2 separate regions of the Homo sapiens genome follow, and region 2 is linked to region 1. The links come from fine-mapping of genetic effects on gene expression. A gene starts in region 1. The other region holds a variant in brackets. All regions are shown on one strand. Distances are between the middles of the regions.

Evidence for each region. PIP is the estimated chance that this variant, and not a neighbour inherited with it, causes the effect.
Region 2: its variant is the best candidate, but not a certain one, in a credible set for the expression of ADAMTS4 in whole blood (TOPMed, PIP 0.56).

The regions. Positions count from the first base shown.
Region 1 is chr1:161,197,335-161,201,715 of GRCh38, reverse strand. ADAMTS4 (ADAM metallopeptidase with thrombospondin type 1 motif 4) reads left to right here and starts at 2,662. Exons shown (of 9, transcript NM_005099.6): 1 at 2,662-3,721. The coding sequence starts at 3,089. It also overlaps a transcript of NDUFS2 not described here. RefSeq lists enhancers at 676-1,397, 3,923-4,381.
Region 2 is chr1:161,161,249-161,165,629 of GRCh38, reverse strand. It overlaps USP21 (ubiquitin specific peptidase 21), which reads right to left. Exons shown (of 14, transcript NM_001014443.3): 4 at 3,533-3,592; 5 at 3,240-3,360; 6 at 2,904-3,015; 7 at 2,556-2,711; 8 at 2,011-2,075; 9 at 1,649-1,752; 10 at 1,380-1,466; 11 at 1,018-1,096; 12 at 688-795; 13 at 487-601; 14 at 1-273. The coding sequence ends at 183. Among named protein-coding and RNA genes, the nearest start is that of PPOX, 3.0 kb to the left of the region's middle. The variant C/T (reference allele first, on the strand shown) is at 2,643.

The DNA of each region.
Region 1 (4,381 bases):
CCTCTGTGGGTGACCCTGACATCCTCCAGGCTTCCCGAACCTACAGAATCACAGACCCAGGAAGCGCCCTTAGAGATGCCTCACACCCCACTTCCGTCTTGCGTCAGCCTCTTTTCCCTAACGTCTTTCTGACCCTGCTATAGCCCTCCTGGGTAATGGCCAACAGCACGGAAATGTAGTAGCACCAGGAGTCTGATCACAATTCTGTATGGACAAAGATTCTTCCAGCCTTAGAGGCTAGTTCCTGTTTTCTCCCTCTGCCTCTAAGCCCAACTCCAGCTGGGCCACCCACCCGTAGAGTTTGTACAACTCTCCAACTCTGAGCCTGGAAAGAGGCCTTCCCCAGATATCCCCTAGACAGGATCCCAGGGACACAGCCCACCAGCAGCGCAGCAGGGTGAGGCAGACAGACCAGGAAGCAGAGATGGTGGAATTCTTCACTGCAGAGAAAGAGGGGAAAGCCAGACTTCTGGCCTGGGAATTGACCTAATGGGAACTGTACCAAAGGGTGGGGCCAGATCCTTAGCTGTGGGAACTGACCAGGACCTGGGCTAGACAAGGCAGCTGCCACAGAGCCAGGGCAGAGGTTTGGTCCCTCTGTTGTCCTCATTCCTTGCTCTTTCCCTGGGCCTTCTTTCTATTGTTGAAACACAGCAAATGTGGCCATGGTGGTGGGGGATGGGAAGGACTGCATTTATTTGCCTTGATCCAGCCTGGGAGAAGTCAGGATAGACTTTGGGCTGCTTGGCCCTGGAGGCAGCTTGAGCTGGGACTGGGGTGGGGGGCTCCTGAGGGGCTGCCTAGGACACTGCAGCTTTTGTGCCTTCTCCCTGCTGCCAACACCCCCACACACACTGCTGCAGCCACTCTAAAGCCCTTTGTCTTTCATTGCTTAGTCACCCCCTTTGTCCTCATCTCAAATAGGGGAGTGGAAAGGGGCAGTAGAGTTCTCTGGTGATAGCTCCTCTTGCCCCTGCCCCTTCTGGTCTCCCACCCTTTGTCCGACTCCTCTAGTCCCAGCCCCGTTGGCTTAGAACCAGGGTCAGGCAAGTGGTGGGTCAAGAGGTGGGTCTGGCAGTCACAAGGGGGTGGGTGATCCAGGAAGTGATAGGCACCAGGGCAGGTATTACCGACCTGAGCAGGAAGGGAGGGGGAAAGGAAGTATTCTGACGGATATGATATGCGGGGGACAGGAGGTGACAAAGCAGAGTGAATAGGGGAATAGAGGCAAGAGGAGGTGGTCCACTTCTGGGAAAGGAAAGAGACTGCTGACTGCACTCTCCTTCCTGGGGATTTCCTGGGGAAACAAGCAGCCAGAGGATGGGGTGAGCAGAAATTGCCCCTACTTCTGAACCCTTCCTTGCCTTGAGAGTTCATACCCAAGACCTCTTTTCCGAGTTCCCTCCTATCCAAAGCCAAAGGAATAATTTGCTTCCTTTCCCTAACACCACCTCTTCCTCCCCAGCCACTTTCCCCACCCCAGGCAATGGATTTCTCCCAGTACCCTAATTTCCCTATATGCACAATGCTGTCTCCACCCTCTCCCTGCCCCAGGGAGAATTAAAAAGAAAAGATGACTAGATATTCCAGGAACCACTGGGTTCTCAGAGCAAGGTGGGGTGGATGGTGGGAGCCAGGTGGGGATTCTCCCAGATTGATACTGGGTGAATCTGGGTTCCTGAGAGCAAGTCTTGCCTATGCTGGGGGCTGGCTGACTTGAGGCTGGGGGAGGGTTTAGGGCAGTTGGGAGTGGGTAGGAGCAGGGCCAAAAGCCTGGGGGAAGCTACTGGGAGCTGGGCCAGGGAAATGGGGAGTCAGGAAGTGGGGAGGGGGAACCCTGGGGGGAAATGGAGGCGGAATGGCTGTTCTGGGCTTTGGAGGGGGTGGGTAGTGGTAACTCAGGAAGGGGGATCCTGAGGGAGAGAAGGGACGTTAGAAAAGAGGAGGTGCCACCCTGGATCCGCCTTCTATAAAAGGAAAAGTCGTTAACCCCTCCTGCCTTGTCATCTGCCGCCTCTGTTATGTTCATTCCAAGCAGGATCATCCTACCTTTGGGCAGTCAACTCCCTGATCACTGTCTCCTTGCCTCCCCCAATGTTCTGCCTTTTTTACTCTTCCCAGCTGCTCAGTTCTATCCTGAGCCATGTCAAGCTACCTCTTTTATTTGTTCTTCCCTCTTGATGCCTCCTTACCTGTTCCCTACCCTCTTTTCTCAGGCAGCTCACTCAGTCCCCTCAGCCCTGGAAACCAGCCACTAGGGCCAAAGGGCAGCATGAGGGAGCCTTGAGAAAAGAGAAGCCATGGTAGGTTAGACTATAAGAGCAGGAATTCTCCCAGGACCGTGATCCTATCTGTGCATGCCGGCCAGGCCCTTTCCCTCACTCTCTGCCTCTCCTGGGGCTCTGTCCCACCAAAAAGGGAAAGAGACAGCTGAGGGCTGATTGTGGGGTTTGGGAAAAGGCTATGTCATCAGCTGGCCCAGTGCCTATTATCCATTCGGCTGCTAGAGATTCCCCTCCCCTGGGCAAGTCCCATTTTTTTGGGAAGCGATGATACACCCATCTGAGTCCCACCGACAGAGCTCAGCTGAGTGGCTTAGAGATCAGCCAATCAATCGCAGAGGCTCACCATGCTTAAAAGAGCTGGCGCGGAGAGAGGCTGGGGAGAACCCACAGGGAGACCCACAGACACATATGCACGAGAGAGACAGAGGAGGAAAGAGACAGAGACAAAGGCACAGCGGAAGAAGGCAGAGACAGGGCAGGCACAGAAGCGGCCCAGACAGAGTCCTACAGAGGGAGAGGCCAGAGAAGCTGCAGAAGACACAGGCAGGGAGAGACAAAGATCCAGGAAAGGAGGGCTCAGGAGGAGAGTTTGGAGAAGCCAGACCCCTGGGCACCTCTCCCAAGCCCAAGGACTAAGTTTTCTCCATTTCCTTTAACGGTCCTCAGCCCTTCTGAAAACTTTGCCTCTGACCTTGGCAGGAGTCCAAGCCCCCAGGCTACAGAGAGGAGCTTTCCAAAGCTAGGGTGTGGAGGACTTGGTGCCCTAGACGGCCTCAGTCCCTCCCAGCTGCAGTACCAGTGCCATGTCCCAGACAGGCTCGCATCCCGGGAGGGGCTTGGCAGGGCGCTGGCTGTGGGGAGCCCAACCCTGCCTCCTGCTCCCCATTGTGCCGCTCTCCTGGCTGGTGTGGCTGCTTCTGCTACTGCTGGCCTCTCTCCTGCCCTCAGCCCGGCTGGCCAGCCCCCTCCCCCGGGAGGAGGAGATCGTGTTTCCAGAGAAGCTCAACGGCAGCGTCCTGCCTGGCTCGGGCGCCCCTGCCAGGCTGTTGTGCCGCTTGCAGGCCTTTGGGGAGACGCTGCTACTAGAGCTGGAGCAGGACTCCGGTGTGCAGGTCGAGGGGCTGACAGTGCAGTACCTGGGCCAGGCGCCTGAGCTGCTGGGTGGAGCAGAGCCTGGCACCTACCTGACTGGCACCATCAATGGAGATCCGGAGTCGGTGGCATCTCTGCACTGGGATGGGGGAGCCCTGTTAGGCGTGTTACAATATCGGGGGGCTGAACTCCACCTCCAGCCCCTGGAGGGAGGCACCCCTAACTCTGCTGGGGGACCTGGGGCTCACATCCTACGCCGGAAGAGTCCTGCCAGCGGTCAAGGTCCCATGTGCAACGTCAAGGCTCCTCTTGGAAGCCCCAGCCCCAGACCCCGAAGAGCCAAGGTAGGCATCTCTGGAGTCTGTGTCCTGCGGTGTCCTCCCGCCATGTCTGTCCTACTGACCCCTATTCACCCTCTCTCCACCCACTTACACTTCTGGCCGTTCTGCTTCCCTCCCTTCTGCCTGCCTTTCCTTTCTCCATGAGCCTCCTTTCTTGGTAAGGCTCAGGCCTCTCCCCTTCACCCTTCTCCTAGCCAGACCCACCGAGGGTTCTCAGAGGTGGGTCACAGACTCTGGGCTGGGAATAACTGCTCCCTCTCCCCACCCCACCCCTTCCTGGCCATGGCATCTCCTACTGACACAGTCCCCAGCAGTAAAGGTCTCCTAACAGCCCCTTGGCCTTGGCTCTTTTCTCTGCTCCAAATTTGATTTTCATCCCCCACTCCCAGCTATAGGAGTCAGGTTTGAGGCCCTAGGGCTTGGTGTCTGGCTTCTGATGCTGCCTTTAAAATCACTGTGGCAAACTGCAAACTAGGGCAGGAGTGGCAAGAGAGGGAGGGTATCCCATACCTCCTTCTGGTCAATCCCCTTCACACACTGTGGCCGGACTGCGAGGCTGCCTGAGGCTCCATCCTTTCCTCCCTCCCACTCCTGGTCTCCCCCTTCTTCCCTTCCCTCCTCCCTCCTCCCTCTCTAGCTTTAATCCAGACCAGACGCTCCCTC
Region 2 (4,381 bases), 36 kb after region 1:
TGGGAGACAAGGGAGCCTCCAGGTGGAAGGGTATTTTTTAATAAAAAAAATAATGGAGCTACAACCACCCCCTCCCCCCTCCCCGATTAAAAAGACACAAAAATAGACGTCTCTGAGGTAAACGGGGAGCCTGGGGCTTAAGGGTGTTTAAAGGGCTTCACAGGTGCCAGAGCTTAGAGGTGTCACAGGCACCGGGGTGGCTCCTGCATCAGTTGGTAGAACAGCACGTAGCCCTCGCTGGATGCCACCTGGTTTTCACTGACAGGGGAGACACTAGGAAAAAAGGAGATCGGGAAAGGGTTGTGGTCATTCCTGTTTACTCCCTTCTCCCTACAAGACCGAACCTCAGAGCATCCAGGAAATGATCAGGCAAGACCTCCACCTCTCCTTTCACCTGGCACTCTGCTCTCCTGGAGCTTCATAGAAGGGGAGGGTGTCAGGGCTGAGTGGGAATGGGGCAGGATGTAAATAGGAGGCTATTCTCACCGAGAGTCATTGTAGACATGCCAACCAGTCTGGCACCGGCACAGGGCTGTGTAGTGGCCATAGTGGACGCTGCCTGAGTGGTTGCAAAGGGCATACAGCTGGTATACAGGACTTCCTGCGGGGTTGGAGATGATCAAGTTCTATAATCAGAGCTGTGCCCCCACTCCTTTGGCTCCTTAGGACTTTCCCCACCAGACTCACCGGCTTTGTCACTGGCAAAGTCCCCTAGGCTCAGTCGCTGCAGTGGAAAGTCTACACCTACTGAACTTTTTTTGATGGAGCCTCGGGAGGCAGAAAATCGATTCAGATCTAAGCCCTGGTTAAGGAGCATTTGGGAGGCAGTGGGCCTCTGAGGGGAACTTCTTCTATCCTGAAAGCTGTCCTCTCCCCACTCCCGACACACTGGGAGCATCTTGTGGAAAAGTGGGTGGCAGACTTTTCCTAAGGAAAATTCAATTCTCTGGAAACATGGAGGAAAGAGAATGTATGGGAGGTATCCTAAGAGAAGTAAGAATCTGAAGATTAGGATATGGAGCACGAGGATTCGAGGGAATCTTTGTACTGTCAACTTTTTGGTACTTCGAGTTTTCTGCCGACATCGGTCACACACCTGAATAAATGGCAAACAGTGTTAGGTTAATATGCTCCTAACCTCAATTGGCTTTTCTGACACCCCGATCCACATACAAATTTAGTATGCTCTTCATTACAGCTGGATCCTCTTGGCTTCTCCCCTTTGCTCTAGGAGTACTAGAACAGATCTGAGACTCCAACACAAACCCAGATACATAAATATTATTCCCCATATGAAGACATCATGCAATCCCTTTTATCCACATGGAGTCCCCCCAGGTCTCCCACCCTTACTGTATCCCTTGTGAACCTCCACATACTGGGGCATTCTCCGACTCTAGCTCTTCTTCCTTAGTGAAAAGGTTGAAACAATCCCGCAGAGACACCTTGCCCCCAGCAAATCCTTTCTGGGGGAAAAGGGGAAGAAAGGTCAACATGTTCTGAATTTCCTTTTCCAACTCTTCTCAATCAATCCAGGCTTCAGTTCTGCTCCAGAAACCCACAGGGTTCCCGCCCACACTCTGGGGGTGGGTAGGCTTGGGTCACAGAGCCCCTGTCCTGTCCACCCCGGAATCCTCTGGAATCCCACCTTGGGGATGGGCAGGGACAGGTCACAAAAAACCTCGAAGGTCGTGGAGCGATACCCACAGGCCTGGCACTTGAGACAACTTTTCAACTGGCCCACAAACAGGTCTAGACAGAAGCACAGGGACAGGAGAAAAGGTCATTGTTGGATGTTATGAGATGATTTCTTGGATTTCCATCTCTTCCTGCCCCTTTGCTTGACCCTTCCTTTCCCACTACCAACACTCCTAATCAACTCTTCACACAGCTTCACATTTGCATCATCCAGTCTTGTTCCCATACCCCTTGATAGTATCGATTTTTCCCCCCAAGCCTGTACCCCCCTCACACACTAATTTTCCCTCATTGCTTTGCCCCATTCCATACCCACAATCTTGCTGTCCTCTCGCTCCAGGTAACGTTTCCACATTAGGTTGGCTCGGTCATCATCACTACCACAGATCAAAGGAAGTGGGGAGCACCCATGAGACAGCAGGAACACTGGGCACCCCCAACACCCACTGAAACAACCTACAGAGCCCTACTCCCCATCCACACCCCTGCTCCTTCCCTAAATTTCAAGGAAAAGTCAAAAGAATAATGCCTCAATGAACTTTCTAGGGAAATCCGAGGTGAGAGGAAAAGAAAGGAATGTACATAAGGGAAGAATATGCTGTCTTCCTCTACCTGTAAATGAATTATCCCCTTCTTCAATTTGGTGACATCCCTAGCATGATCTTCTGCCTCCATCTGCTCCCTTAGACTCCCCCTCTTCCTTCCTTCCTTCTACTTCTATGTTGCTTCTCATACTATTTTCTATACTAAAGGGTTTCCCTGGACCCTACATCTTCAATCTTTACTAGTTTAGTTCTATGAAGTGTGAATGATGCTGATAAACTACGGGGAAAGGAGGTAGAGGGAACGACCCTTACCTTAACTCAGGTTCTTCTAGCAGAGCCCCTCCTCGGCGGGGTGGAGAGGGAACTGGACCATTGGCAAGTATCGGTGGAGCCCGGCGG[C/T]CTCGGCGGTTGATTTCAAGGTGTAGCCGCTCCATGAGGAGCTTCAGGAACTCTTGGGCATCCTGCTGGCTACAGCCAGACAAAGAGTATGGGCAACTGACTCCTCTCCTAGTCCACAGACACTATTCCCTGCCCAGATATTGGTCCCCACTTCCTGGATGAAGAACATCTCAAGGCTCAGAACAATGCTGCCAGGGCCCTTGCTTGGCCCTACCCCCAGACATGGCCAGAGAGAAATCCCATAGCCTCCAGCTCTCCCACCTGTATCCAGAGAAGGAGGGAACATATTTCTGGAAGACAGCTCGGAATCGAGTAGGATTCACAGCTTCGCAGGAGTCAGGGTGCCAGAGGGCACCAATCACATCTGCAAAGGCTGTTGGGATGGGAGTGGGGAAGGCAAACAAAGGTTAATGTCTGGAAGAGGCAAGCAAAAGGTGGCTCAGAGGGTAGAAAATAACCTTTAGGAAAGTAGGCACTGGGAAAAGTAGATACAACTGCCAGATTTAAGGGTTGGGGGCCACCACCAGTGGCAGATGGACCTGCAAGTGGTTGGGGAAAAAGGGACTTGAACAGAGGGAGCAGGAGTTGTTGCCCCACCTTCAGTGAGCTCTTGGGCTCGGCCTCCTCCAGGCACCTCTTGCCGGAAGTCCCTTCTCAGACAGAAGTCCCGAAGAGGTCGAGTGCTGCTCAGACACTGCAGCACAGCATTCAGGAAGCACTGGGGAGCAGTAGGGACACTGCTGTTATCTCTCCAGACCACTGCCCAGGAAGCCTTAGAAGAGCTTCAGAGCTCTCCTTCCACATGCCTTCCCCAAGCTCGTGGGTTTTCCCCACCCCCAGCACCATTTCACATTCCTTTTAGAGAGGAAAGATAGGAGAATAGCTCTCACCGTGTTTCCCAGGTTTCGAAGGCCAACATGACCAGAGCCCAGAAGGAGTGTGTGATGAGCCTGGAAGGTCAGAGTACAATCGGCAAGTTCCTATATATCCTACCTGGCACTTTAACCTTTCAACAGCATGCTGCCCACTGCCTCCCCCATCCCATGCATGTTTCATCCCCAAACTCTACCCTATTCCCCTCACTAGGTATTCTAGTCTCCCTACCTCACTGGTCATGAGCAGTAAGCCCATCACAGCTGAATGTACCACGGACTCAGCCATGGCTGTCCCACCTGTTGCCCACTTACTCCTCTGCTCAGCTAGCTGACGTTGCAGCTCCTGGGGCAACTCCCCCAGCACCGGCATGGTTGCCCAGCTGCTCACCACTCCCACCTTTCTGCCCCCAAAACCCCCTCCTGCCCCCGTGGCCCCTTCTTGCCCTTCTCCTGCTGGCTCCAATTGCAATCAGCCTAGCTTACTTAGCTCAGAAAATGTGCAACCACGTTTGCTAAGATGTTCTGTGCCTGCCTCTCTTTAGCTCCAGAGATTAATTAGGCCTAGGCAGAGTCCCAGTAGAGAAGGTGCAAGCAAGGGAAAGGAAGGGCCTGGGGACCCAAAGAAGAATTCTAAATAGTTGGGGTAATCCCCTGGGGACCGAAATGGCACACCATGCTGAAGAGTCACCAACAACCCAAAAAAGGGTCTAGGAGGCTCAAGGGTATTTAAGCAAGGGAGAGGCATGTCCAAACTGCTGTAATGAAGGGCTGAGAAAGGAACTTCAGGGAAATGGGGGACAGAAAAGGCAGAGGATGGCAGGAAAGCACAGAGGAACATGGGCATGAAGGCCATGTGTGTGGCAA